7 linked regions of the Homo sapiens genome follow. The protein of the gene in region 4 interacts with the protein of the main gene of each other region in a biochemical or structural test. Each region holds a gene or a part of one and is shown on either strand. Other genes may lie near its edges. The genes, in order: PRKD2, ADGRA2, ADRA1D, SYNJ2BP, ABCC4, RSBN1 and KIT.

What was found.
Region 1: the proteins of SYNJ2BP (region 4) and PRKD2 interact in a test that uses a peptide from one of them, tested with the Homo sapiens proteins (one large-scale study listed by IntAct).
Region 2: the proteins of SYNJ2BP (region 4) and ADGRA2 interact in a test that uses a peptide from one of them, tested with the Homo sapiens proteins (one large-scale study listed by IntAct).
Region 3: the proteins of SYNJ2BP (region 4) and ADRA1D interact in a test that uses a peptide from one of them, tested with the Homo sapiens proteins (one large-scale study listed by IntAct).
Region 5: the proteins of SYNJ2BP (region 4) and ABCC4 interact in a test that uses a peptide from one of them, tested with the Homo sapiens proteins (one large-scale study listed by IntAct).
Region 6: the proteins of SYNJ2BP (region 4) and RSBN1 interact in a test that uses a peptide from one of them, tested with the Homo sapiens proteins (one large-scale study listed by IntAct).
Region 7: the proteins of SYNJ2BP (region 4) and KIT interact in a test that uses a peptide from one of them, tested with the Homo sapiens proteins (one large-scale study listed by IntAct).

Annotation. Positions count from the first base shown.
Region 1 is NC_000019.10:46,676,466-46,679,114, forward strand, and holds part of PRKD2 (serine/threonine-protein kinase D2), read right to left. Parts: intron 2,199-2,649; coding exon 1,931-2,198; intron 992-1,930; exon of another isoform or gene 675-991; intron 1-674.
Region 2 is NC_000008.11:37,831,383-37,834,882, forward strand, and holds part of ADGRA2 (adhesion G protein-coupled receptor A2 precursor), read left to right. Parts: intron 1-40; coding exon 41-205; intron 206-1,627; coding exon 1,628-1,826; intron 1,827-2,305; coding exon 2,306-2,455; intron 2,456-2,584; coding exon 2,585-2,746; intron 2,747-3,500.
Region 3 is NC_000020.11:4,239,288-4,242,787, forward strand, and holds part of ADRA1D (alpha-1D adrenergic receptor), read right to left. Parts: intron 1-3,500. UniProt on the Homo sapiens protein: This alpha-adrenergic receptor mediates its effect through the influx of extracellular calcium.
Region 4 is NC_000014.9:70,389,591-70,393,090, reverse strand, and holds part of SYNJ2BP (synaptojanin-2-binding protein), read left to right. Parts: intron 1-3,500. UniProt on the Homo sapiens protein: Regulates endocytosis of activin type 2 receptor kinases through the Ral/RALBP1-dependent pathway and may be involved in suppression of activin-induced signal transduction.
Region 5 is NC_000013.11:95,291,452-95,294,951, forward strand, and holds part of ABCC4 (ATP-binding cassette sub-family C member 4), read right to left. Parts: intron 1-3,500. UniProt on the Homo sapiens protein: ATP-dependent transporter of the ATP-binding cassette (ABC) family that actively extrudes physiological compounds and xenobiotics from cells.
Region 6 is NC_000001.11:113,805,977-113,809,476, forward strand, and holds part of RSBN1 (lysine-specific demethylase 9), read right to left. Parts: intron 1-3,500. UniProt on the Homo sapiens protein: Histone demethylase that specifically demethylates dimethylated 'Lys-20' of histone H4 (H4K20me2), thereby modulating chromosome architecture.
Region 7 is NC_000004.12:54,730,957-54,734,456, reverse strand, and holds part of KIT (mast/stem cell growth factor receptor Kit isoform 1 precursor), read right to left. Parts: intron 3,130-3,500; coding exon 3,038-3,129; intron 2,587-3,037; coding exon 2,459-2,586; intron 1,388-2,458; coding exon 1,265-1,387; intron 1-1,264. UniProt on the Homo sapiens protein: Tyrosine-protein kinase that acts as a cell-surface receptor for the cytokine KITLG/SCF and plays an essential role in the regulation of cell survival and proliferation, hematopoiesis, stem cell maintenance, gametogenesis, mast cell development, migration and function, and in melanogenesis.

The sequences.
Region 1 (2,649 bases), on a different chromosome or scaffold from region 4:
TTAGTCACCATTGCCTGCAGAAGGCTCAGAGATAGGCCTGTTCATTGTGAAAAAGAGGACTAGCGAATGTCAAGCTTCAAGACAAGCCAGCACTCATCCGAGGCTCTCTCCTTGATGGGAAGCCATGAAGGACAAGGCTTCACTGTATGAACCCATCCGAGGAGAGGCCTGGTGCACACAGGCACCCTGCTCCCGTCAACACCCACAGGATTCTGTGATCCTCACACAGGTGCAACCACACTTAAATTCACTTGTGCACACTCGATGCACTTTTACTGAGGGACTTCTGAGTGGGTCTCAAAAGACAATGCTGGCGGGGTGTGATGGCTTATGCCTGCAATCCCAGCACTTTGGGAGGCTGAAGCGGGCAAATAACTTGAGGTCAGGAGTTCAAGACCAGCCTGGCTAACATGGCGAAACCCTGTCTCTACTAAAAATATAAAACATGAGCCAGGCATGGTGCTGTGTGCCTGTAATCCCAGTTACTCGGGAGGCTGAGGCAGGAGAATCCCTTGAACCCAAGAGGTGGAGGTTGCAGTGAGCCGAGATCACGCCACTGCACTCCAGCGTGGGTGAAAGAGCGAGACCCCACCTCAAAAAAAAAAAAAAAGCCAGTGTTGAGCACCCCCAATATTACTCCAGGACTCAAGTCAATCCACATTCTCACTGCTTAGGGCCCATGCTCTTAGACCACCACCAAGACCTTGTCTTGTCCTGCACCGAGCAACCTCCGTGTCACCCTGCTCCACCTGCTCCATGAAGCCGCACCCTCCAGAGAGGACCCTTCCCCTTTCCACCCTTCGCGGACCACTCAATGAGCTACCCTGCACCTGACCCCTTCTGTCCAAGTCATCACAGTATTCCCAGAGCTGGAACAGTCAATGCCTGGCACATCGTGGGCACTCAACATGTTGAATCAATGGTTACAAATACATGAATGTACTTGTTGAATAAATGGTTATAAATAAATGAATGAATGATCCCCCCCCTTCCCATACTCCATCTGTCTTCCTGAGCTCCCTGGCTCCAACACAGGTCCCTTGTTCTCCTGGCTTCTGACACACCCCAGTATCTTAGCCCTGCCTCTGGCCCTCTAAACATGCCATCCCACACCCAGCCTCAAAGCTCCAGGCCTTAGGACTTAACTTTTCCAAGCAGGGAAAGTTACAGACCCATTCCCAAGTAGGTTCAAGTCACCAGGCCCGGTGCCACTTCATCAGGCCCAGCCACAACACCAAAGCCCCAGAATGCAGAGTGCAATGTCTGCCTCAGTCCTGGCTCCCTTCTCCTCCCCACTCCCATCCACTCCCAGCTTCCAGGACTCAGGGTCAGCCCTGTTCCTGGACCTCTTCGGAAACCCTCCACGGCCACGTCCCTAGACTGGCTCCCTTGGTCACTGAACCGACCCCAGGCTTCAGGCCCATCTTCACCCAAGTCACGGCCCCAGTACACAGCAAAGTAGCCATGCCCTTGTTTCTCAACCCTACCCACCGGTGCCTCCTTTTTGCAAGGCTGACCCTTTTGGGGTCGTAAACCCAAAGGCTCCAGGTCCCAGCCAATGCCTTGGGAGGCTCAGCCCCTTCTCCTGGTCACCGCAGCCCTTTGGTACCCTCAAGTCCAGTCCCTTTCCTGGTCCCACCCTAGACAAGCCAAGTCTCACTCAGCCCCCCTAAGGTTCCAAGTGTCCTCAGCGCTTCTGGGGCACTTGGTTTCCAGCCCAAGTAACCTAGTCTAGGCCTGAGTCCCAGCCCATCTTTTACAGGACGGCTCCTCCTGTAGCCACATCCCTCCAGTAGGCCCGCCCCAGCACTGGGCTCCACCCCCAAGGTGCCAGGCTGTTTCCGGGTCCACCCCCCTCTCATGGCTCCGCCCACTTCTCCAGCCCCACCCCACAACCCACCCGCCCATGGGGTAGGCGGGCCCCAGGCACCTCCAGCTGAGATGTGGCTCCAGGGGCTGGCCGGGTACATGAAGGCGGCGTTCTGGATCTGGTCATTGATGTCCTCATCCTCGTTGAAAGGGAAGGTGCCGCTGAGGCTGACGTACATGATCACGCCCACTGACCACATGTCCAGCGAGCGGTTGTAGCCCTGGTTGAGCAGCACCTCGGGTGCCAGGTAGGCCGGCGTGCCCACCACTGAGCGGCGGAACGACTTCTCGCCGATGATGCGAGCAAAGCCAAAGTCACACAGCTTCACCTGCAGAGGGCAAGGGATGGAGGCTCCACCAGGTGATGGAGCCGCACCCACCCCAGCATCCCCACCACACCACCCTCCATGGTATTCCAGAGAAAGCTGGATGCTGGTTTGAATCCAGGCTCCTTGGCTCACTAGCTGAGCAACCCTGGGCAGGTGACTTCCCCCCTCTGTGCCTCAGTTTCCCCATCTATAGGAAGAAGAGCAGAAGAGCACCTATCTCAGAGGACTGCCATGATGGTTAGTGAATTAAACCATCCAAAGCCCACAGGACAATATTTGGCATTCAGTTGGTGCACAATAAATGCTAGCTGCTGCTATACCTCTGCCACCTCCAATGGGTCGCTGTTTCCTCTTTTGAATAATGCAGATTTTTTTTAATAGCCTCAAAATATACATGATTGGGGCGTGGTGGCTCATGCCTGCAATCTCAGCACTTTGGGAGGCCAAGGAA
Region 2 (3,500 bases), on a different chromosome or scaffold from region 4:
CAAGGGTGACTCACGAGCCAGCTCCACCTGCCACCCGCAGTGAGCTGACGCTGTCTCACATCGGCGTGTGGGCCTCAGGCGAGTGGGAGTGCACCGTGTCCATGGCCCAAGGCAACGCCAGCAAGAAGGTGGAGATCGTGGTGCTGGAGACCTCTGCCTCCTACTGCCCCGCCGAGCGTGTTGCCAACAACCGCGGGGACTTCAGGTTTGGCCCACTCCACCCTGTAGAGGGCTGCCCAGCCCCCAACCCCACCCTTGCACCTGACATCACAGGTGGCCAGAGTTTCCCCATCCGCTGTCTCTGTTGGGTCCTAAAGATGGAGAAGACACTTCCTTTTGTCATTCAGCCTGAAGCCTTGCTATCGAATAGATAGACTTTATGTATAAACTTACCATCTGAGGCCGGGTGCAGTGGCTCACGCCTACAATCCCAGCACTTTGGAAGGCCAAGGCAGGCTGATCATCTGAGGTCAGGAGATCAGCCTGGCCAACATGGCAAAACCCCATCTCTACCAAAAAGCACAAAAATCAGCCAGGCATGGTGGTGCGTGCCTGTAATCCCAACTACTCAGGAGGCTGAGGCAGGAGAATCGCTTGAACCCAGGAGGCGGAGGTTGCAGTGAGCCAAGATCACACCATTGCACTCCAGCCTCAGCCTAGGAGACAAGAGCAAGACTCCATCTCAAAAACAAACAAACAAACAAAATTACCATCTGAGATGTGCTGCAGAAAAAGACTTTTTTTTTTTTGAGAGAGAGTCTCACTCTGGAGTGCAATGGCATGATCTTGTTGCCTCAGCCTCCCCGGTAGCTGGCCTGTGCCACCATGCCCAGCTAATTTTTGTATTTTCAGTAGAGATAGGGTTTCACCATGTTGGCCAGGCTGGTCTCGAACTCCTGGCCTCAAGTGATCCACCCGCCTTGGCCTCCCGAAGTGCCAGGATTACAGGCTTGAGCCACTGCGACTTTTTTTTAGACAGGGTCTTGCTCTTTCATCCAGGCTCCAGTGCAGTGGCACAATCATACCTCACTGCAGTCTCGAATTCCTGGGCTCAAGCAATCCTCCCACCTCCGCCTCCCAAGGAGCTGGGACTACAGGCGCAGACACTATGCCTAGCTTATTGTGTTATCTTCTGTAGAGACAGGGTCTCACTTTGTTGCCCAGGCTGGTCTCAAACCCCTGGGCTCAAGCACTGTGCCTGGCCACAAAAAGGCTTTTATTTGCTTCCTTATATTCATAGTTTGCAAAAGCTCACCCACAAAGAGTATCACCTTTTAAGATCCCAGTGACCCTCTCTGTTATGCAGGGAAGCTATTATTCTCCCCACTGTACAGCTGAGAATACTGAGGCCGAGAAAGGATAAATACCTTGCCTTAAGCCATAGCAAATAAGTGGCAGAACTTGAATTTAAACTCAGAACTCTGAAGTCCAGCCCCCTATCGCCTGTGATAGCCCGGTCAGAACAAAGAGAGTGGAACTTGGGAACCCCTGGAAGGCTGGTCTGAACCCCGCTCCTGGATCCCTCCCCAAGGCCCCAAGGAGTCCGGCCTCACCGTTCTAAAGTCGGGAGAAGGGCTGTTGTTCTGAGAAGCCCGGTTCATCGGCAACTTCCTGCCTCTCCCCCCAGGTGGCCCCGAACTCTGGCTGGCATCACAGCCTACCAGTCCTGCCTGCAGTATCCCTTCACCTCAGTGCCCCTGGGCGGGGGTGCCCCGGGCACCCGAGCCTCCCGCCGGTGTGACCGTGCCGGCCGCTGGGAGCCAGGGGACTACTCCCACTGTCTCTACACCAACGACATCACCAGGGTGCTGTACACCTTCGTGCTGGTGAGGAGAGGCTAGGGCACCCCACCAGCTCTGCTTCGGGGGCACAGGGAAGGGAGAAGCCAACCTAACGGGCAAGGGGAGCCCTATCTCCGGGCCGCTGGGCTGTGCCTCCTGTTCCTGCCTGTGCAGAGCCAGGAGCCGGCTCCTCTCCTCCAGCCGCCCTCTGCTATTCAGACCCACTGAGGCCACAGTGGGGAAGGGCACCAGTCCTCTGTCCCCATCTGGCCACCTCACGCCCCTTTACTCACCAACGCCAAAAGCAGAGTCCCACTGTCCTTACACCAGGGGTGCTGGCAGTGGTGGCCTTGGGCTGTGATGGTCTCAGCCTCCTCTGCCCTCCTAGCTTGATGAGACCCAGAAGGTAGGCTGGACTCCTGTCCCCAGGCACTGAGCACTGGCACAGAGCAGAGGGTCCCCAGGGGCAGTTCGGGGGCAGAAGGAACAGGCGAGATGATCCTCTCTCTTCCCCCAATCCCCAGATGCCCATCAATGCCTCCAATGCGCTGACCCTGGCTCACCAGCTGCGCGTGTACACAGCCGAGGCCGCTAGCTTTTCAGACATGATGGATGTAGTCTATGTGGCTCAGATGATCCAGAAATTTTTGGGTTATGTCGACCAGATCAAAGAGGTGAGACTCAGCTGGAACTCAGGAGCTCGGAAAACGCCCCCATCCCTCATTTGCTCAAGCCTCTCTCTCACTCCAGCTCCTGGGTCCCAAACCCCGCCCCTGCCCTCAGCAACTTCCCTGTCCCCCCAGCTGGTAGAGGTGATGGTGGACATGGCCAGCAACCTGATGCTGGTGGACGAGCACCTGCTGTGGCTGGCCCAGCGCGAGGACAAGGCCTGCAGCCGCATCGTGGGTGCCCTGGAGCGCATTGGGGGGGCCGCCCTCAGCCCCCATGCCCAGCACATCTCAGTGGTAATGGGGGTCAGCAGAGGGGGTGGCCCTGGCATGCAGAGGAGGGAGGCGCTCCCTCTCAGGCGTGCACCTGCCGTGCCCCAGCTAGCAAGAGCAGCAGACGTGACAAAGTTCTGAGCCATGGGGTTCACTTCCAAGTTGTCAGGGGCAGTGCTAAGGAGAGGTGGCCGGTGACCCTGGAGAAGTGATGCCAGACTCCGTGGTGGGGAACTGAGCCAAAGGGCCAGCCTGATGGGAATAAGCAGGAGGAAGAGTGAAAGGAGTAGAAGGGATGGGAGGAAGGCTTGGTGGCAGGGCAGACAGCACTCGGGATTGAGTGAAGAGTAATGGAAGTTCCCTGAGAGAAGGTGAGTGCTCCAATCTGATAACAACCACAGTACAGCATCGTGTATGTTCAAGATATTGTGCTAGGCCCTTGGGGCGATGCAAAGGGGTGAGACATGGAGCCTGCTCTACAGCTGAGTCGGGCAACAGAACTGGCATACTTAAGAGGTGAGCAAGAAGCCTGTAATCCCAGCACGTTGGGAGGCCGATACAGGAGGATCTCCCAAGGCCAGGAGTTGGAGACCAGCCTGGGCAACAGAGAGACCTGGTCTCCACAAAAAATACAAAAATTACCCAGGAGTGTTGGCATGCGCCTGTGGTCCCAGCTACTCGGGAGGCCAAGGTGGGAGGATCACTTGAGGCCTGGAATTTGAGACTAGCCTGGGCAACATGGTGAAACCCCATCTCTAAAAAAAAGTTTTTAATTAGA
Region 3 (3,500 bases), on a different chromosome or scaffold from region 4:
CTCAGATGTTTGGGACAAACATATCAGCAGGAGCTGGGCAGAGGACAAGATCTTCAGGGGAGGGGAAGGAGGAATATATGTCCAAGGACAGAAGTCCCCATCAGTGTTGTGTTTTTCTTCTACTGAAAATAAAATGTACTTCCTAGATCTGTCCATTGAATCAGTGACCAACTCAGTATCAATGAACAGCTCAGTCATCTTCCATTGAAACAGACTAGGGCTCTTTAGGGAAATGGCTAATTCCAGGTCTAGGGCAGAAAAAATGCAAGCTGAGCCTGAAGCATCTTATCAGATCAGAAAGCAAAGAAGAGCTCAAGATGCTCCAGGTTCTGCCAAAGATCTCAGAAGCCAACTGGAAGGAGTACCCACTGGCCAAGCCCAAAACAATGATGTCTGTGATGTGTTGGAACAGCAAGGATGTCTAAAAATAATGACATTACCATGGTACTCAAACAGCCTCAGTGGTCACGTCTGGAAAGAATGCTAGAGAACTGACTCTTCCTCTGATAAATAAAGAGGAATATTGAACATCTTCCCTGCCTTTGCTGTACAGATTCTATTTAACCAAACAGCTAGTGGTGAAATCATTTTAGAATGCTAGTGAATAAATGAAGGAGGTATGATAGGATTAGAATATCCCCACTTCAAGCCCCAGTGATATAATGGGTCCAGGCCATGGTCAATGGCTGCCAAAACCAGCAGGTGAAAGGCCGATGGGTCACTTTGTAATGGACAGAGCAGGCTGACAGCACATGAATTCTGGTCAATCTTGACACCACAGAAAAGAAGAATTCTTTCCAGGCCAAATCTGCACCCAGGAAGTACAGGGAACAGAGGGACACATTAAATGGCACTGTGGAGATGCAAACTCCAAACTACAGGATACACCTGGGGACAATCTGGTGTCTTCACTAAATAAATGGAAAGAAAAAAAAGCAGTGGAGGCTTACCGAGTAAAGAAACCTAATAGGCAAATCGACCATATGCAACGTGTGCTCCTTCTGTGGATTCTGCTTCAAACAAACCAACCAAAAATTTACGAGGCAGCCAGCAACATTTCAACACTAAGTAGATATTTGATGATATTAAATGATTTTATGTGTTATAATGGATTGTGGGCTTTTTTTTTTTTTTTTTACAGTTATTATCTTCTAGAACTATATATTGAAGGATTTACAGATGAAGGGATACTGTATCTGGATGTTCTTCAAAATAATCTACAGTGGCCGGGTGCAGTGGTTCATGCCTGTAATCCCAGCACTTTGGGAGGCCGAGGTGGGTGGATCACCTGAGGTCAGGAGTTTGATATCAGCCTGACCAACATGGTGAAACCCCGTCTCTACTAAAAATACAAAAATTAGCTGGGCATGGTGGTGCACACCTATAATCCCAGCTTCTTGGGAGGTTGAGGCACGAGAATCACTTGAACCCGGGAGGTGGAGGTTGCGGTAAGCTGAGATTGCGCCACTGCACTCCAGACTGGGAGACAGAGAGACTCCATCTCAAAAAACAAACAAACAAAAATCCAAAAGAATCTACAGTGATGGGACAGTGGGTGAGGATGGAAAGAATCTAGGTTAGCTTTGGGGTGAAGCTGGGTCACAGGTACACAGGGGTTCATTATACTAACAGGGTTCTCTCTATCAATGTATGTGTTTGAAACTTTCCATGTTAAAAACATGAAAAAAACCCAACCCTAGCTCATTGCTTATTCATAGTAATTACTCAATAAATATTAACTGTCCTGTTAAAGATTTTTTTTTTAGGCCACAAAAATGGGGACTCACCCCCAACCCACAACAAGTAAAGAGAGTTGACTTTAAATAGAGGGCTGTTATGCTAAGCGAAATAAGCCAGTCACAGAAGGAGAAATACTGCATGATTCCACTTACATGGGGGTCTCTAAAATACTCAAATGCGTAGACTCAAAGAGTGGGATGGTGGTTTCCAGGGAGAAAGGGCGCTAGGAAATTGGGAATTGCTAATCAATGGGCATAAAGTTTCAGTTTGGCAAGATAGATGAGTTCTAGGGGTCTGATGTGCAACAGTATCACATGATATGTATCCATAGTTAATGATATGTAGTTAATGATATGATATTTACACTTAAAAGTGTGTTAAGAGGGTAGAGCTCATGCTATATGCTCTTGCCACAATAAAAGAAAATTAAAATAATAAATAAATGGAGGGCTGTGCTTTGCCACCCAGACCCTTGGTGTGGCAGGATGGGAATAGAACATGGGTTCTACCGTTTCCTTCTTCTGCACACATTTACTGAGCACCTATTATGTTCCAGGTGCCACAAAGCACAGGTAGGAGATGTAATGCCAGCCCTTTCTTCAGGCTTTTGGGCCGGGAGACAATGATGCCATTACTGAAGACCTAGCACAAAGCATCCCTTGCCTCTCCCCTTCATCCACAGACCCCTGCACAACCTCAGGCAGCCTGTGGAGATGAGTCCTTTAGCACCTGGCCGACTCTCAGACATATGCATAATCCACTCTCCGCACGGGGCCACCAAAGTATGCCTTCCAGCCTGGACACCAATTACTAAGCAGGGCTCACAGCCTCCCCCCTGCCTCCTCCTGCCTTCTCTCTCACTGTAACAAAGGCATAACATGTAGACAGTCAAATTTAGAAAGCGTGTGTATCTGAAGCACACAGCACAGCCTGATGGCTCTGCATATGCATGCACCAATGTCATCACTACCCAGGTCAAGGTATGGAACTGTCCCAGCCCTTCAGAAAGTTTTCTAGCATTCTCTTCCAGTTAGTACACTCACTGCACACACACAGATGGGTAACCGCTATCCTGGATTTTATCACCATTGATAAGTTTCCCCTGTTTTTGAACTTCATCTACACAGAATCAAAAGGTGTGTACACCTTGAGTTTCAGACCTGGCTTATTTTGCGCAGTATAACATCCATGAAATTCATCCATGTGTGCATCAGTAGTTTGCTATTTTTCCTTGTACCGTGGTCCAGTCTATGGATACATGGTTTATTTATCCATTCTCCTGCAGATGGCATCTGGCCTCATCTCTTGACCCCTCTTCTCATAGGCTACACGTTTTACGTCTCCCAAACCACAGAGCAACCCAGCAATACTGCTACTCCTGTGCCTACGTGTGTGTAGTTCCCTTTGCCCTCACACTTCATGATGCATATCTGAATATTGACAGTTACAGTGCATCGTGATAAAAGTACATGCAGAGTGTTTCAGAAGCACATGGGACATCTAAGTCTGGGGGTGGTCAGCGACACAGGCACTATCACAGAGCACAGACTCACAAGATAGGAGAGAGGCTCAGGTGTGGCTCACAGATGGCTGGAGTGGGACATTGGCTGGGCTGTCCTGGGACTTCTGATATCAGAGCCTCTGCCCAGCTTGTATGCCTTGAGGTGCATTTGAGGGGGGCCCTGGGCTCTGAGTCTCCGGGCTGCTTTGAGTGGATGGCATTTGGAAGGTGGAGGTCAGTGATGCTCGGTGATCTGCCC
Region 4 (3,500 bases):
TGTAGATTCTGGATATTAGCCCTTTGTCAGATGGATAGATTGCAAAAATTTTCTCCCATTTTGTAGGTTACCTGTCCACTCTGATGATAGTTTCTTTTGCTGAGCAAAAGCTCTTTAATTGATCCCATTTGTCAATTTTGGCTTTTGTGGCAATTGCTTTTGGGATATGTGGTCACCCTACTTATGCAAGATTTTTCTGGGCCATAGCCAATGATTAGCAAGATACGTATTGAATAGCCTTTCCCTTTCTGGTGGTTTCCAACTGACATCTGTTTCAATTGGTTGGTCCATATGCTGGATGATTGCCGCAGAGTTTAGATATCACACTTGCTAGAAACTACTCTTAAGGGGGATTTCTAGGTCACATGCCATAGACGTACTTAATAAGTTTGAGTTCCTGTTTATAGATGGGTGGAATTTTAAAATCTGTCTTCCCATTTTTTAGGAGATTTTGCATTTCTACTGTATATTTATTCATTCTTTCTCTGTCAAACTATCTAGTTTGGAGCTTTAGCAGCCATTAGTTTATTGACAACTACTCCTAGCGCCTTATCCCAATAGAGCAACTACTATGTAGTTTATGAAGATTTTTTTTCGTATTTTATGTTATTGGCCCCTAACACTTACCCATTGATGTAGACAGGGCAGAATTTATAATTCTTATTTTTGTAGAAAAGGAAGCTGAGGATCAGAGGTAAACTGACTTGCTTCAGTCCACATATCTGGTAAGTTATAAACTTAGAACCAAGTCTTCTGACTTTGATTTGCTTCTACAATATCTAAAAGGGACAGGGAAAAGGATAAATTTGGGTTTGTGGTTAAAATAGGAACTGTCCAGGTTAGCTTTATATCTTCCTCAGAGCATAACGTAATGCCTAACACATAGTAAATGTTGATTTGCTTCTGCAATATCTTAAAGGGACAGGAAAAAGGAAAAACTCCAGTTTGTGATCAAAGCAGGGAGTGTGCAGTTTAACTTTATGTCTTCCTCAGATGATAACACAACATCTTACACATAAGATTCAATCAGTAATTTTTACTGAGCAAGTGAACTGGGGATTATGTAGGTATCCGTACAGCCCAGGTTCAGTTGGTCATGCCACTACTTAATGCTGTGGTGACTCTTTTATTGCAGCAATGCTTTGGCTTATAGATACACCCAGTTCTGTAAATATTCTGGCTGAACAAAGGGCTTCAGGTCAGTCCAGGAGTTCTCATGTTAAATAGTTTGGTTCATTTACAACAGAAGTAGCAACGGGTTATAAATGTACCTATATAATATGACTTCGATGGGGTGTGTAGTAGACGGCTCTTTTTTGTTTATGGTAAATCTCGGTAAAATTTCTTCTACTCTTCCTTTTTTTTCTACAGTTAGCTTTGAATAACCAGTAGCAAAGTCCTTTCTGTTGCTAACTACTACATTGCATTCAGCTGCTTAACATTTGCTTCCTGTTCCCAAGATCACCAGAGGCAACTGTAGCATTTGATGAGGGTGTTGGATTTCATCAAAAGATTTTTCTACATAGTTTGTTCCAGCTTGGGAGAGGTGGGTTGGCCTTGGCCCCCTTGTTCAAAGCTGTCACAGTTTTGAAGTCATTTCAAAACCTTCGATAATCTTGTTCCATCTGCTTTTCCACCTTATCTTACATTTCTGTACCTTCTCCAATACTTCCTACCTTCTATGATACAAATTGAGGGTGCTCTAAGAAAATCATTTAGTAAGTTAAGCTACTATTTTTAATACCCAGCCCTTCAAGGAAGTTAAAATAGCATCTTCCAGAAGTAGCACCTTCTTATTTATTTTTTTAGAGAATAGGGTCTTGCTATGTTGCCCAGCCAGGTCACAAACTCCAGAAGTAGCACTTTCTATTATGTATATTATTTTAGAGAATAAATTCTTTCTATTATCTAGCTGCAGAGATTTTATGCACAAGGTATGCTTTTTATGTATTTTATTTTATTTTTGAGATGGGGGTCTCACTCTGTCACCCTGGCTGGAGTGCAGTGACACAATCTTGGCTCACTGCAACCTCTGCCTCCCAGGGTCAAATGATCCTCCTACCTCAGCCTCCCAATGTTGGTCATGTGCCACCACGCGTGTCTAATTTTTTGTATTTTTGGTAGAGACGGGGTTTCACCACGTTGCCCAGGCTGGTCTCGAACTCCTGAGCTCAAGTGATCCACCCACCTTGGCCTCCCAAAGTGCTGGGATTATAGGCGTGAGCCACCATGCCTGGCTAAGGTATGCTTTTTAACTTAAATGTTTCCTGTTGTGTCTTTGTTTGGTCATGTTTTTCTTTAAATTACAAATTGATTTGCTAGTGCTTATGTTAATACTGTGAGCTTCAGGTGTAAGCTTTTCTCCCACCAATGGGGAGAACTTTCAGAAAGCCCGCATATGTCTCTTTTTTATTTTTTTTTTTGAGATGGAGTCTTGCTCTGTCGCCCAGGCTGGAGTGCAGTGATGCAATCTCAGCTCACTGCAAACTCCACCTCCCGGGTTCACGCCATTCTCCTGCCTCAGCCTCCCGAGTAGCTGGGACTACAGGTGCCTGCCACCATGCCCAGGTGATTTTTTGTATTTTTAGTAGAGACAGGGTTTCACTGTGTTAGCCAAGATGGTCTCGATCTCCTGACCTTGTGATCCACCTGCCTTGGCCTCCCAAAGTGCTGGGATTACAGTCGTGAGCCACCGCGCCCGGCCCCCCGCATATGTCTCTTTAAGTATCTTTTCTATTGAGAACAGTGTAGGCTGGTGATTATGGTTATTCCTTCCAATTGCACCGCTAGATTTTTGGTTTGTTTCCAAACTATCTCCTTTGTCTTACACTGTGCCCCTGAATTCTACCAGTAGCTGACATTAAGAAAGCCCTAGAGAAGTTCCTTTTTCCTTTTTATTTTTTTATGCATAGGTAAAATCCTTTCCTAACAACGGTTTCTGTACAGTAAAATCCTTTCCAGCACTTAGTCATTGGTCCATAGAAATAGCACTTTGGTACTCAGTTTTCTTTCCTTCTCTTTTTTCTTTCTTTTAATATTTTGTTTTACTGTGGTAGGAACACTTAACGTGAGATCTACTCCGAACAGATTTTTCAGTGTATGATATAGTATTATCTGTAGGCACAATGTTGTACAGCAGATCTCTAGAACTTAATTCATCTTGCATAACTAAAATTATATGCATTTAAAATAGTTAAACTCATAAAAACAAATATTAGAATGGTGGTTTCCAAGGACTTAGGGAAGAGGAACTGGGGAGTTGCTAATCAACGAGTAGTCAGTTTTTTCTACAGTGAATAAAAGTTGTCAATTACTATGCCCAAGTATAGATTGAGTAGCCCAAATCCAAAAATCTGAAATTTGAAATGCTTCCAACTCCAAAATTTTTTAAGGGCCAACATGACGTTCAAAGGAAATGCTCATTGAAGCATTGCAGATTTCAGATTTTTGGATTAGGGATATTCAACTGGTAAGTTTAATTCAAATATTCCAAAATCCCC
Region 5 (3,500 bases), on a different chromosome or scaffold from region 4:
ACACTTGTGGCCAAGTTAATCTAGCAACCACAGTGTTGATTAGTGGATCTGCCACAACCTAGAGGACATTCCTAGGACCCATCCTTTCTAGCATTCAGACTACGAAAGTGTTCCAAGAACTTTCAACAGCAACAATGAGCTGCTAAACGTTAGCATCTACAAAATGAATTTGCATAGGGATAGAAGAGCAGTTACATGGGGACAAGCCCTGCGGACTGTGAGGTCAATTGGCCATGTGTCCAATATAGCTCAACTGCATGTATCACTGATGATGCCCAAATTGACATAAACTTCCTGACCACATTGGCCAACATGATGAAACTCCATCTCTACTAAAATACAAGTATTAGCTGGGTGTGGTGGCGCGTGCCTGTAATCCCAGCTACTCGGGAGGCTGAGGCACGAGAATTGCTTGAACCAGAAGGTGGAGGTTGCAGTGAGCCAAGATCATACCACTGCACGCCAGCCTGGGCAACACAGTGAAACTCCATTTAAAGAAATAATAATAATAAGATAAACTTCTCCATGAGCCCCAAACTCATGACCAATTGAATGCCTATTCAACATCTCCACTTGAATGTGTAGCAGGCATCTCAAACTTAACAGGGTCAAAAATAAACTCCTGTCCAGGCACCATGGCGCATGCCTGTAATCCCAGCACTTTTGGAGGCTAGGGCGGGAGGATCACTTGAGCCCAGGAGTTCAATACCAGCCAGGGCAACATGGCAAAACTTCATCTCTACAAAAAATATAAAAAATTAGCTGGGCATGCTGGCACACACCTGTGGTCCCAGCTACTCAGGGGGCTGAGGTGGAAGGATGGCTTGAGCCCAGGAGGTGAAAGTTGCAGTGAACTGAGATCGCACCACTGCAATCCAGCCTGGGTGACAGAGTGACACCCTGTCTCAAACAAAGAAACAAAGATTTAATGTGGCCATGATAGCTGTCTTTGAATACTATGAGGCGAGCATATGAAGGGAGGTAGCCAACTTGCTCTGCGTGTTGACAAAAAAACAAAGGAGAGCGGCTCTGAACCTATTTTGGTTCTAGGAGCTGCTTGATTCACAGATCATTCTTTGCTTCATTAAATTCTGTAATGCTTTTCTTAGAAGTAAGTAAACACAAGTAGAAATTGCATGGAAAGAAAACTGTGGCTCAATACAACATAATTCTGGCATTCGAATCTAAAGTCATGAGAGTCACATAATGCATTTCCCCACTGCCCAGTATCTGGAAGGGATTCCTGTACTGAGTGTGGGCTAGAAGATCTCTTCCTTTCAACCCACTAATTCTATGACACTAAGGAAAAGGGGAAGATAGGAGCTAGCGCAGAGAAAAGAGCAGACAGGGACTAGGCCTGAAACAGACCAGCACGGAAGTGGTCATGGAACCCAGAAATGGAACAAGGAGCTACGTCGCAGGCCACAAAAGGGCTGTAAGTACTCATGAGTAAGGGGCTGGAAGTGGGAGAAGCAAAGTCTGAACATCTGCTGGGATGAAAGAGGGGAGGGCAACCTTGGGTGTAACAAACGCTACCGGCTGGCAGGGACGACATAGCGACTGAGGGGTGGTCATTCGCCACACGTCTCAGGCAACACTTTCTCCAACTGCAGTTCTGTGACCTGGACATCTCATCCCCTGCCAGGAACGATTTCCCACCTTCTCCATCCAAGCTCCAACAGGAAGGTAAACCCCTCCCCAGAGATCTCCATCTTGGCCAACATGGCAAAACCCTGTCTCTAACAACAACAAAAAAATTAGCCAGGCCTGGTGGTGCACATCTGTAATCCCAGCTACTTGGGAGGCTGCGGCAGGAGAATCGCTTGAGCCCGGGAGGCGGAGGTTGTAGTGAGCCGAGATCATGCCACTGCACTCCAGCCTGTGCGACAGAGACTCCATCTCAAAAAACAAAAACAAAAACAAAATCCCCACCCTCACACAGCTTTTCCATACTTCTACTCCAGCACACCCAACACGGGTTCAGGATGAACTCCTGCAGCAGCGACTGCTGGACACACGGACTATGTTTTTTTGAGATGGAGTCTCGCTCTGTTGCCCAGGCTGGAGTGCAGTGGCGTGATCTTGGCTCACTGCAACTTCTGCCTCCCGGGTTCAAGCAATTCTCCTGCCTCAGCCTCTCGAGTAGCTGGGACTACAGGTGCATGCCACCACGCCCAGCTAATTTTTGTATTTTTAGTAGAGACGGGGTTTCATTACGTTGGCCAGGCTGGTCTTGAACTCCTGACCTTGTGATCCACCTGCCTCGGCCTCCCAAAGTGCTGGGATTACAGGCATAAGCCACCGCACCCAGCCTGGACTACGTTTTCTTTTGCTTTTTTTTTTTTTTGAGACAGAGTCTCATTCTGTAGCCCAGGCTGGAGTGCAGTGGTGCAATCTTGGCTCACTGCAGCCTCCACCTCCTGGGTTAAAGCGATTCTCCTGCTCGGTCTCCCAAGTAGCTGGGATTACAGGCATGTGCCACCATGAAAGAAGGCAGGGTGCCTTCTTTCTTGCCAGGTGCAAATCCATTACAATAAAGTACCATTCCTGTTCTCAAAGAGCTCACACAATGAGGGAGGCAGCCACTGTATCGTGCAAATAATGCTAGCTATTAAACAAGCCCTGATTCTCAATGGCTTAATTCAAAATCACCAGCCGAGGCAGTGGATCACATGAAGTCAGGAGTTGGAGACCAGCCTGGCCAACACAGCAAAACCCCTTCTCTACTAAAAATACAAAATAAATAAATAAATAAAAAATTATCCGGGCGTGGTTTTGAGCTCCTGTAATCCCAGATACTTGGGAGGAGGCTAAGGCAAGAGAATCGCTTGAACCCGGGAGGCAGAGGTTGCAGTGAGCCGAGATCACGCCACTGCACTCTAGCCTGCAAGACAGAGATAGACTCCGTCTCAAAAAAGAAAACAAGAAACCAAGACCATGCCTATTGTCATGCTATAGTCCCCTTTTGGGCCATCTAGGGTGGTGAACAACACCATACATTTACTCCTAGCTGGACTTTCACCATCTTGCGGCTCGGCCTCCTCTCAGTCCTCCTCCTCTCCAGGAGGCCTCTTTATTCAGCTGGAGAGGCGTTGCATGGGGCTGGTTTTTGTGTTCCAGTCGTGGAAGCGAGACACCTTTTGCAACCACTTCCTATTGGCCAGGTCTCAGTTTCATGGTCACCTCTGACCACAAGGTTGGGGTAGAAAACATAGTCCAGGCTGGGCATGGCGGCTCACGCCTGTAATCCCAGCACTTTGGGAGGCCCAGGTGGGTGGATCACCCGAGGTCAGGAGTTCAAGACCAGCCTGGACAACATGTTGAAACCCCATCTCTCCTAAAAGTACAAAAAATTAGCTGAGCATGGTGGCGCACATCTGTAGTCCCAGCTATTTGGGAGGCTGAGACAGGAGAATCGCTTGAACTCCGGAGGCAGAGGTTGCAATGAGCCGAGATCACGCCACTGCACTCCAGCTTGGGCAACAAGAGTGAAACTCCAT
Region 6 (3,500 bases), on a different chromosome or scaffold from region 4:
TATTTCTGGACACAGTTTAAATTTCGTATGATTTCCATGCGCTACAAGGTCGTTCCAACTATTTTAAATTGTAAAAACCATTGTTAGGCCAGGCACAGTGGCTCATGCCTGTAATCCCAGCACTTGTGGGAGGCACATCACCTGAGGTCAGGAGTTTGAGACCAGTCTGGCCAACATGGTGAAACCCCATCTCTACTAAAAATACAAAATTAGCTGGGTGTGGTGGTGGGCGCCTGTAATCCCAGCTACTCAGGAGGCTGAGGCATAAGATTCCCATGAACCCAGGAGGTGGAGGTTGCACTGAGCTGAGATCACACCACTGCACTCCAGCCTGGCACAGAGCGAGACTCTGTCTCAAAAAAAAAAAAAAAATCATTGTTACATTACAGGTTGTACTGATTTTTGAAAAAAGTGCAAAAGCAATTCAATGGAAGATTAATCTTTTCAACAAAAGGTGCTAGAGCAACTGGATATCCTTAGGCAAGAAGAAAAAAAATGGCGACCTAAACCTCACACCTGTACAAAATTAACTCAAATGGATGACAGATTAAAATACAAAAGTTAAAATTATAAAACTTTTAGAAGAAAACAAAGGAGAAAATCTTTGGGATCTAGGACTTGGTATGTTAGATATGATGCCAAAAACATGATCCATTAAAGAAAAAAAAAAACTTAGTAAATTGGATATCAACAAAATTTAAAATTTTTGCTCTGTGAAGTATCCCACTGAGAAGGTAGAAAGGACCAGGCACAGTGGCTCCTGTCTGTAATCCCAACACTTTGGTAGGCCAAGGCGGGAGGATCACTTAAGCCCAGGAGTTTGAGACCAGCCTGGACAACACAGAGAGACCCTGCCTCTATCAAAAAAAAAAAAAAAAAAAAAAACATTAGCCAGGTGTGGTGGTGCACACGTGTGGTCTCAGCTACTCAGGAGGTTGAGGTGGGAGGATCACTTGAGCCCCAGAGGTTGAGGCTAGAGTGAGCCATGATCACATCACTGTGCTGCAGCCTGGGTAACTGAGTGAGACCCTCCCCAAAAAAACAAAAACAAACAGGCTGGGCGTGGTGGCTCATGCCTGTAATCCCAGCACTTTGGGAGACCAAGGCGGGCGGATCACCTGAGGTCAGGAGTTCAAGACCAGCCTGACCAATATGGCGAAACCCCGTCTCTACTGAAAAACACAAAAATTAGCCGGGCATGGTGGCAGATGCCTGTAATCACAGCTACTCGGGAGGCTGACATAGGAGAATCGCCTGAACCCAAGAGGTGGAGGTTGCAGTGAGCCAGGATCGTGCTACTACACTCCAGCCTGGGTGACAAAGTGAGAATCCATCTCAAAAAAAAAAAAAAACAACCAAAATAAAAACAAGCAAACAAACAAAAAGGATGGAAAGACAAGCAACAGATTGGGAGAAAATATGTGCAAACCATACAAAGAAGCTGCACCTGTGATCTACAAAAAATTATCAAAACCCAGTAATAAAAAATATACAATTCAAGGGCCGGGCGCAGTGGCTCACGCCTGAAATCCCAGCACTTTGGGAGGCTGAGGCGGGTGGATCACCTGAGGTCAGGAGTTCGAGAACAGCCTGGCCAACACAGTGAAACCCCGTCTCTACTAAAAATATAAAAAAGTAGCTGGGTGTGGTGGCAGGCACCTGTAATCCCAGCGATTCGGGAGGCTGAGGCAGGAGAATCGCTTGAACCCGGGAGGCAGAGGTTGCAGTGAGCCGAGATTGCACCATTGCTCTCCAGCCTGGGCAACAAGAGTGAAATTCTGTCTCAAAAAAAAAAATTATATATATATATATATGTATATGTATACACACACACACACACACACACACACAAAATTCAATTAGAAAATAGGCAAAAGGTATAAAGAGACATTTTACTGACCAGGATATATAGACAGCAAATGATGATATGAAAAGATGTGTATTATCACTAGCCATTTGGGAAATGCAAATTAAGATCATGATGATGTATCACCACACGTCTATTAAAATTGCTAAAATAAAAATAGTGACAATACCAGATACTGGCAAGAATGTGGAGAAAATGGATTTCTCTTACACCGCTGACAGGAATGTAAAATGGTACCGACACTCCAGAAAATACTTTGGCAGTATCTTAAAAAACAAACAAACAAAATAAATATATATAGTCATCCTTGGTATCCATGGAGGATTGGTTCCAGAGCCTCCCAGGGCAACAAAATCCAAGATGATCAAGTCCTTCATATAAAATGGCATAATAATTGCTTATAACCTATGCACATCCTCCCCTATATTTTAAATCATCTCCAGATTATTTATACCTAATACAATGTACATGCTATATAAATAATTGTTATACTGTATTGTTTAGGGAACAGTGACAAGAAAAAAAAAGTCTGCACAAGTCCAGTACAGACAATGTTTTTTTGAAAATATTTTCAATCCCAGGTTGGCTGAATCCATTGATGTGGAACCCATGGATACAGAGGGCTAATTGTATTTACCATACGACCAAAGAAATGAAAAGTTACATGCACACAAAAACCTGAACACCAATTTTCATAGAAGCTCTATCTATAATAGCCAAAAACTAGAAATAATCAAAATGTCCTTTCTTATACGGGAATGATTCAATAGGTGAACCATGGTACATCCATACCATGGAACACTATTCGGCAATGAAAAAGAGGGATGGATCTCAGGGACATCACACTGAGTGAAAAAGGGCAATCTCCAAAGATCACATACTGTATGATTCAACTTATATAATAGTCTCAAAATGACAAAACAGGTTAGTGGCTGCCAGAGGACAGGGACAGTAGAGAGACAGAGGGAGTGCCTAAGGCTGTAAAGGGTTTGTGGTGGTGGAACAGTTCTGTATCTTGATTGTAGTGGTGGTTACACTAATCTACATATGATAAAATAGCATATAACTACATATACATTGTACCAATGTCAATTTCCTGGTGTTGATATTATACAATAGTTATGTAAGATGTAGCCACTGAGGGAAACTGGTAAAAGGTAAGGACTTGACTATGTTTGCAATTTCCTGTGAATCATTAATTATCTAAAAAAAAAAAACAGTTAAAATAGTTTCCAAAAATCTGAGGATAAGCGAAGGAAGGACATAGCTTTGTAAGTAACAAGAATCTGCCCACTCTCCTTATTAATCTTAGAGTTGTTTTAGGGACCATGCATAATAAAATAATAAAGGCCGGTTTTAAGTAAGTGCCTACAATGAGCCAGGCACTGCTGTAAGTACTTTCACACAATGCCCTATTTAATCCACACAAGTTCCTTATAAATGAAATACCACAACCCCATTTTATAGACAGGAAAAGTGCAGTTGAGAGAGGGTAAAGCAATTTGTTCAGGCTCACACAGTAAGTGTTAGAGCCATGATTTAAACTCAGATTAATACCAGAGGCATGCCTCCTGCATACCACTGTAACAATAAAGATGTTCAGAGGACAAAAAAGATATCAGTCAAACTATGT
Region 7 (3,500 bases), on a different chromosome or scaffold from region 4:
AGACATCTATAAAGAATAGTAACAATATGTCTGGCACTGTCATAAGCACTTTACATATATTAACTCATAACTTTCTGAGTCAGGAATCACTATTATTCCCAAGGGGAGAAAAACAAAGATTCAGAGGTATTGGACAACTCTTGACAAAATTACACAGGCATGAAATAATGGAGACAGATTGCAGAATTCATCAAGACTGGGCCTGGAGGCGGCCACCTTCTTCCTCCTCCCTTTGGTCAATATTCAGAGGACTGGATAATTAACGACTTATCATTCTTCCTTCCAAAATTGCACCAGGATGAAGAGAAGTTGTTTTTATTATCACTCCTGATGATAATATCTAGCTTCAGGGCAGCCTTTTCAGAAATTCATGCTTTGGCCAGGAGATAAACACAGAAACACTCTTACAAAACCAAATCGAGTACAGGCTACCAATAGAGACGCCACAGTGATGGGGGGAAAACATTACATTATCATAAGGGGCACAAAAATCCACCTCCAGGAATAAATCTGGACTGCAGAAATGGGCCCAGGAAGACAGGCAGAGAATATTATAAAGGGCAATATGGTTTTCCATGGCGATGGGATGCCACTCTGGAAATCACAGGCTCTAGTTTCAGCCTCTATTGTCCTGTGTCACCTCAGATAAAAAGCACTAAAATATGCCATGCCTTAGTTTCTCCAACTTTTAAAATAGGAAGGTGCTGCAATTATAGGACAAGGGTTTGTTCTGAGGATTCAATAAAAATTGGCAAGGAAATACAGCACTTTGAAAAACATTTGCTATGTTCTACAAACCCATTATTACTTATGAACCTATTTAATAGCTCTCCGTGTATTCTAGGATCCAACATTCTATATGGCTAACTCTGAATATGATCTTAGATTTTAATATTTTTCACACGGCATGCCAATCCCCCCAAAATTTCTCCTGCTGTGACCTTCAATGACCTACATTTGTTACACTTGAGCAAAATCAAGTTCATTGCTATTCTCAGGCTATAATGAAAATTAAGGCTATTTCTGTTTCCTTCACATGCCCCAAAATTACACAATTAGAATTAGGACTTCTATTATTGAATGTTAGTTGTAGTAATGTTCAGCATACCATGCAAATTTTGCTGAAGTATACTTAATTTGACTGCTAAAATGTGTGATATCCCTAGACAGGATTTACATTATGAAAATCACAGGAAACAATTTTTATCGAAAGTTGAAACTAAAAATCCTTTGCAGGACTGTCAAGCAGAGAATGGGTACTCACGTTTCCTTTAACCACATAATTAGAATCATTCTTGATGTCTCTGGCTAGACCAAAATCACAAATCTTTGTGATCCGACCATGAGTAAGGAGGATATTTCTGGCTGCCAAGTCTCTGTGAATACACTATTAGGTTGGAGGAGAAAAGAAAACCATTTAAATTCATTTTAACTTGTAAAGAGTGAAAACTAACTTTTTAATACTATAGTGTTGCTTATATTATAAAAAATCCAATACTTTTGTTTTAAAGTATTCAGTACACCAAAAATAAAAATCAAAAGTACGCCTTGAATGATGTTCACATAATCAAGAGTCTAATTATTATAATCTCTTTTAAAAGCAATTCTAATAAATGCTGTTTTCTTCTCAGGACTGCTTTCATTCATAGGGAAATACATAAGAAATAGTCATATCATATTGTTTAAACTGAAAATTCATTTTGCATGCATCTCTTTGAATGTCCTTTCACAGAGTTCCTAATATGCCTTTGCAAATTCAATCTGACATCTCCCAAGGACACACGGAAGAAGGTCTTTATTTCAGCCATCTTATATCCTTTCTTAGTTTGGTAATTGTTGGGAAATGTCACCCATGACATTTAAGGGTAGGACTGGTAACTCATTCTGTTCGGTTAATCTTACTTCCTAAGGAACTCCTTTCACCCTTCCACAGACCATGCTCCTTGTTTTGGTTCCATCATTCTTTCCATTCCTAACCTTCTCCCAAGTGTTTATTACTCCCTCTGACCCCTTATTTCCTGACACTTCATAAGCCACACATATAATATTTGGATCTAACTTCAATAAAACTCAAGTCTATGCTTCACCCCAAGCCTTGTAACTATGAGGTGCCCTCTGCTTTTACTGATAAAATGATTCTGTTCTCTAGGAACATATCCTATATCCTAAAAGCCAAAAGTTTTAAAAGAATTTCACTGCATATAAAAGAATATTCATAGAAAAACTCATTTAGACAGGCTTGTACTTTACAGCTTATAAATTAGAACAGGAATTCCAAAGAGACAGCAGTTGGAACATGAAGAAACTAAATTTCCTCTGCTTTTGGTTACCACACTTCAAAATGACATTCTGCATTTTAACTATGGCTCTAAAATGCTCTGTTCTCAAAAAAAAAAAAAAAAAAAAAAAAATCAAAAAAACAAAACACAAAACTCTTTAGAGAATCACTCCCACTTACATTCTTGGAGGCGAGGAAAGCCATGCCCTTTGCCACCTGGTAAGAAAAGCTCAGCAAGTCTTCTAAGTCTAGGGCCAACTCGTCATCCTCCATGATGGCGGGAGTCACATCTCTTTCTATGTATGAGCCTGTGAGGAAGAGAGGATTTTTCTTAGCAATTACAACCATAAAGGTCAGGAAAGGAAAAGACAGTGGCAATGACATACCAAAGGCTGGTAATGAATGAACTAATGTGAACTTGCAGGCAGATCACTTCCCTGGTGTCCAGGAAAGGTAGATGCTGAATCACAAAGTTAATATTTAACAATCCTAGGCTGGGTTACAAAATCCATAGAGGAGAGGGATGGCGAATTAAAGCAAAGATCCCATATCTATAGAAAGATACTCAGGCACAAAAACATATGCTCTGACCCCAAACACCCACTTGCAACCCTAACTGCCATTGACCATTGGCACTGCTACCATAAAGCAGAACTGGTCTGCATCATTGCTACTGGGAATGATGTTATATTCCACATTAGCATGATATACATACTCTCTGTAAAGTTACTCTTGGTTGCTTGATAGGTAGGTACTCACCTATTCTCACAGATCTCCTTTTGTCGGCCTTGGTTGGGACAACATAAGAAACTCCAGGTTTCATGTCCATGTACTCATTAGTACTATCGCTGCTGGGAGAGATGAAACAAGTCATGACTGAATCAAGTGGGACATGTAGAAGGGCACTCATGGGTCATGCTCTACCTCCTCATCCCCTTTGCTACATAATAGACTGGACCAATTTGAGGAAAGTCATGTAAAGTTTGAATAAAGAGTTTGAAAATCCTGTTCTGTAAGAAATGAGTTTTTAATAATCGATATTGGGGTCCATGCCCAGAAACTAGGTGTCCTTTTTGTGTATAATCATATAGAGGACTCAGGTTAGAAATTTCCCGTCTCTTGACACAATGAATTTAATGGGAGACAGAGAGCCAAATATGGTATCCCGTATTACCTCAAACTCTCTAAATGAGCCCCAGGAGACAAGATGAAAGAAAGACAA